Regions from separate parts of the Homo sapiens genome. Here region 2 is linked to region 1. The links come from fine-mapping of genetic effects on plasma protein levels. Region 1 holds a variant in brackets. A gene starts in the other region. All regions are shown on their forward strands.

The links. A credible set is the group of variants that fine-mapping cannot tell apart. PIP is the posterior inclusion probability: the model's chance that the variant is causal. Protein levels are from antibody-based Olink assays in UK Biobank. Linkage for the fine-mapping came from a reference panel and not from the study's own genotypes, which makes the PIPs less certain.
Region 2: it holds the start of IFIT3, and the variant in region 1 is the best candidate, but not a certain one, in a credible set for the plasma level of the IFIT3 protein (UK Biobank, PIP 0.59).

The regions. Positions count from the first base shown.
Region 1 is chr6:73,444,327-73,447,250 of GRCh38, forward strand. It overlaps CGAS (cyclic GMP-AMP synthase), which reads right to left. Exons shown (of 5, transcript NM_138441.3): 2 at 1,202-1,421. Among named protein-coding and RNA genes, the nearest start is that of CGAS, 6.5 kb to the right of the region's middle. The variant G/T (reference allele first, on the strand shown) is at 1,297.
Region 2 is chr10:89,326,409-89,329,332 of GRCh38, forward strand. It overlaps IFIT3 (interferon induced protein with tetratricopeptide repeats 3), which reads left to right and starts at 1,589. Exons shown (of 2, transcript NM_001549.6): 1 at 1,589-1,670. The coding sequence starts at 1,666. It also overlaps a transcript of LIPA not described here. RefSeq lists an enhancer at 1,357-1,596 and a silencer at 1,917-1,966.

The DNA.
Region 1 (2,924 bases):
AGATGGAGTTTCGCTCTTGTCACTCAGGCTGGAGTGCAATGCCCCGATCTCGGCTTACTGCAACCTCTGCCTCCCAGGTTGAAGCAATTCTCCTGCCTCAGCCTCCCAAGTAGCTGGGATTACAGACATGTGCCACCACACCCGGCTAATTTTTGTATTTTTAGTAGAGATGGGGTTTCTCCATGTTGGCCAGGCTGGTCTCAAACTCCTGAGCTCAGGTGATCCACGCACCTCAGCCTCCCAAAGTGCTGGGATTACAGGTGTGAGCCACTGCGCCTGGCACCAGATTTTATTATCTGATCATTGAGAAGCCAGGTTTTCATCAGAGAGTAATGACTGGCTTTGTATTTTAAAACATTTACTCTGGCTTCTAAGGACAGATATTATAAGAAGGCAAATAGGGAGATTAGAAAGGAAAATGATGTAATAGTTCAGGTAAAAGATGGTGGCAGCTTAGGTGGGGTGGGAGTAGGGTGCTGGGATTGAAGCAGCAGACAGGTCCAAGCTGTAGCAGCACTTGCATCTGGATTAAGCGTAGGGGGTAACAGAGAGGATTAAATTAAGATGGTTCCCAGGTTTCTGGATGGTGCGTCTGGGTGGATTGATTGTGCCATTTTCTGAGATGGGAAGGACTGAGGCAAAACATAGTTTGGTATATGAATTAAGTTATGTTTATTCGCTTTGGATATGTTTGGTTATAGATTCCTGTGGTACATCAACATCAAAGTGGATATGTTAAGGACGTAGCTGGATATAGGTTTGGAGTGCAAAGGATATATTTGGGCTGCAAGTAAACATTTGGGAGTCATCATCATATAGGTGGCATTGGGAATGGATGAAATACCTAGGCAGAGAGTGTAGATTCATTTATCCATCAATTTAATAAATATTCATTGATTATTTCATATAATTTAATCATTTAATTTAATCAATATTCATTGATTATCTAATGTGTAGGTGTTCTAGTTATTTAGGATTCATTAGAGAACAAATAGATAAAGACCTCTACCCTTCTGTACTTTATAATCTTGTAATCATATTATAAGTAATTGCCAATGTACACTCCTCTACTGATGTTTCTTGACCTCTCTACTGCACTTTTTCTTACTGCAGAGAGGTCAAGAAACATGAGAATGGGAGTGTACATTGGCAATTACTAGGTATAATTAAACCTTTAAGAATCAAAAGGCAAAAGTCTTACCTTTAATGTCGTTAATTTCTTCCTTAATGATTTTCCTAAACTTTGACAGCATCTTAGAAGCTGATAATATTTCACCTTCTAAAAACTGACTCAGA[G/T]GATTTTCTTTCGGATTTCTTTTAAATTTCACAAAGTAATATGCACGAGTGTTGGAATATTCTTCTAGTTGAATTCTGGGGACTTCCAGTTTAAACATGACATCAAATTCATTAGGTGCAGAAATCTAAGAAACAGTAAAAATAGTACTGAAATATTTGCTTATGAATATTTTCCAAGTGACTGGAACTTTTTAAAAAATTTCCACTTAAAACTTTACTTTAAAAAGCAAGATTCATAATGTCTATATATACCCTCTGGGAGTGGGACTAGTGGAGCTGGCAGGAGGTGGAAGAGTATTACCAGTTTCATTTTGTAGGTTCTACACTCAATTAATTTTTTTTACCATGACCTAGTATTATTTTTATAACTAAAAATGATTTTAGGCCAAGTGCAGTGGCTCACACCTATAATTAAATTTTGTGGGGCCAGGTGCAGTGGCTCATGCCTGTAATCCCAGCACTTTGGGAGGCCAAGGCGGGCGATTCACCTGAGGTCAGGTGTTCGAGACCAGCCTGGTCCAACATGGTGAAACCCCGTCTCTACTAAAAATACAAAAATTAGCCGGGCATAGTGGCATGCGCCTGTAATCCCAGCTACTCAGGAGGCTGAAGCAGGAGAATTGCTTGAACCTAGAAGGCAGATGTTGCAGTGAGCCAAAATAGTGTCACTGTACTCCAGCCTGGGCAACAGAGCAAGACTCCATCTCAAAAAAAAAAAAAAAAAAAATTTGTGTATGATATGTGGTAGGGAATCAAGGTTCATGTTTTTCCTACATAGATATCCAATTGACCCAGCATTATTTATTGAAAAAAAAAAATCGGGCCGGGCGCGGTGGCTCACGCCTGTAATCCCAGCACTTTGGGAGGCCGAGGCGGGTGGATCATGAGGTCAGGAGATCGAGACCATCCTGGCTAACAAGGTGAAACCCCGTCTCTACTAAAAATACAAAAAAAAATTAGCCGGGCGCGGTGGCGGGCGCCTGTAGTCCCAGCTACTCGGGAGGCTGAGGCAGGAGAATGGCGTGAACCCGGGAAGCGGAGCTTGCAGTGAGCCGAGATTGCGCCACTGCAGTCCGCAGTCCCGCCGGGGCGACAGAGCGAGACTCCGTCTCAAAAAAAAAAAAAAAAAAAAAAAAAAAAAAATCGTCCTTTCAGCCAGGCGCGGTGGCTCACGCTTGTAATCCCAGTACTTTGGGAGGACGAGGCAGGCGAATCACAAGGTCAAGAGATCAAGGCCATCCTGGCCAACATGGTGGAACTTCGTCTCTATTAAAAATATGAAAATTAGCTAGGTGTGGTGGCATGCACCTGTAGTTCCAGCTACTCAGGAGGCTGAGGCAGGAGACTTGCTTGAACCCGGGAGGCGGAGGTTGCAGTGAGCCGAGATGGTACCACTGCACTCCAGCCTGGGCGACAGTGCGAGACTCCGTCTCAAAAAATAAATGAATACATATTTTAATCAGTTTGTCAATTTAATTTAAAAAACTGATCATATTTCAACTGATTGCATTAAATCTAGAACAATTTGAGGAAAAATGAACACGATATAGTTGTCAATTACTTCCTCTTCAAATTTACCCAGTTATGTTTTTAAGTTTTGAATATCTTTAGTGATATTTATTCCTAAA
Region 2 (2,924 bases), not on the chromosome of region 1:
AGAGATTAGAATGATGATTACTAGAGGCTGGGAAGAGTAGTAGCGGGGGAAGTGGGGATGGTTAATGGGTACAAAAATATACTTAGATAGAATTAATAAGATCTAGTGTTTGTTAGAACAAGAGGATGACTATAGTCAACAATAGTTTATTGCACATTTCAAAATAACTAAAAGAGTATAATTGGATTGTTTGTAATACAAAGAATAAATGCTTGAAGTCATTTACCCTGATGTGATTATTACTCATTGTATGCTCGCATCAAATATCTCATGTACCCCATAAATATATATATCTACTATGTGTCCACAAAAAATTTTTAAAAATAATAAGAATTGGCTTAAAAAATGCTGTTTCCTGGGCCCCACCCTAGACTGATGGTCAGATACCTAATGTTGACAAAAAAAGTCAAACTCTGTAAAACATTTGAAGAGATTTATTCTAAGCCAAATATGAATGACCTATGGCCTGTGACACAGCCCTCAGGAGATCCTGAGAACATGTGCCAGGCCACAACTTGGTTTTATACATTTTAGGGAGACATAAGGCATCAATCAATACATGTAAGGTGTACATTGGCTAGGTCCAGAAAGGTGGGACAATTGGAAACAGGGAAGCGGGGCAGCTTCCAAGTCATAGGCAGATTCAAAGATTTTCTGATTGACAATTTGTTGAAAGAGTTATTATCAATAGAAAGGAATGTTTGGAGACATCCAATAGAAATTCAATAGACAATCATTAGAAAGGAATGTCTGGGTCGTGGAGACCAAGGTTTTATTATGCAGATGAAGCCTCCAAGTAGCAGGCTTCAGAGAGAATAGGTTGTAAATGTTTCTTAATACACTTAAAAAGAGCATGTTCTGGCTGGGTGCAGTGGCTCATGCCTGTAATCCCAGCACTTTGGGAGGCCAAGGTGGTTGGATCACCTGCTATCAGGAGTTCAAGACCAGCCTGACCAACATGGCGAAACCTCGTCTCTACTAAAAATACAAATATTAGCCGGGCATGGTGGTGGGTGCCTGTAATCCCAGCTACTCGGGAGGCTGAGGCAAGAGAATCACTTGAACCCAGGAGGCAGAGGTTGCAGTGAGACGCAATCATGCCACTGCATTCCAGCCTGGGCAACAGAGTAAGACTCTGTCTCAAAAAAAAACAAAAACAAAAACAAAAAAAGAGTGTGTTCTATTAGTAATTCCAAAAGGAAAAAGGATGTAATGAGGCATATCCAGCTTCCCCTTCACATCAGTTTTCAGGTTAACTTTGGAATGCCCTTGGCCAAAAGCAGGGGTCCAGTCACATGGTTGGTGAGTATGGCCTTAGAATTTAATTTTTTGGTTTACATTAGGAATGCTTCCACATTCTCTCAAACAAATTTTAGTCACAGTTTTGAATAACGTACTCTGGCTCAGCCATTGCAGGTCTCAAGCCGTTAGGTTTCATTTTCCTCCTCCCAACGATTTTAAATTAGTTTCACTTTCCAGTTTCCTCTTCCTTCCCCTAAAAGCAATTACTCAAAAACGGAGAAAACATCAGCTGATGCGTGCCCTACTCTCCCACCCCTTTATATAGTTCCTTCAGTATTTACTTGAGGCAGACAGGAAGACTTCTGAAGAACAAATCAGCCTGGTCACCAGCTTTTCGGAACAGCAGAGACACAGAGGGCAGTCATGAGGTCAGTGAAATAAGAATGCATAATCATGCTTGTTTTTGAGTGCAAATTGTAAGTTGAGTTTCTTACTGTGCAGGCACATTCCTGAATTGTCCTGATGTTTATAGATTCAATATGTCTTTATCAGTCTGAGCATTTGTAAGATGTTTGAGGGGTTTTTCCCTGTGGCTTTTTTTGGTGTACACACAGGCTTCTTAAGTTTCTGGAATGGTTCCCTACGGAACTACATGGGGGGAGGCAGGGTGGGGAATGCATCAGCTCATGTTTCCTCCCTGTGTGCAGCTATTTCCTGCAATGAGAGGAAGGCTTGGCAGGAGCGGTGTATTTCACTCAGCCACAAACTTGGCTGATTCAAGGGTAGACCTAAGGGAATTACTCTTTTGGGTTTTTCTGTTATTGTCATTTTGTTTGAAAAGATTAAGTCACAGGCTTTTTTTCTTGTAATTTTAAAAGGAGGAATTTATTTTCAACAGATATTGTGAAAGATACAATCAGTACTGCAAACCCACTCATGAAGAAGGCAATTTTGCCCTGAAACGTTGCATTACTTTAAGGTGGGAAGTGGAAGAAACAATTCTTACAAATGGGCATTTTTGTCATTTCTTATATAAAAACAAACCCAAAGCTTAGCATTTATTTTTATTGATGTAGTGAATGCTGGTCAGCAGCAAAAAAAGAATTTCTCCTCAAAAGTGTAATGACCTAATCTATTATCTAAAACTAGTCTAATCTCTAATGGTGGGAAGCAGATCAGTGGTTGCCTGGAGATGGTGGGGATTGAGTAGGAAGGCTCCCAAAAGAATCTTTTTAGAATCATAGGAATAGTCTATAGGGAGGTAGTGATGGTGGCTACATATGCATAAACATTTACCAAAACTCATCAGACTATACACTGAAAATGGGTGCATCTTATTGTATATAAAGCATAATCTCAGTAAACTTGATTTTTAAATTTATATATTGACCTCCTGGAGTTCTTCAGGGGATAGCATGTTAGGGAGAACTAAGAGAAAAGGATGCCTTTCCCACCAAGCATCTCTAGGAAAGGAGTGAGGAGGTGATTGCCAGGGAGGGAAGACCCCATCGACCATTCAGGGGGGCAGAAAAGGAAAACTGGATTCCCTACCTTACTCTGCCCCAAGGACTTGAAGATGCTCTGCAATGTCATGTTTGGGGATGAGATGGGTAAGAGGAATTCACTGCCAAATACCTCAGTATATAGAATACCCTTTTATATAGAATAAGTTCCTGGTCAAG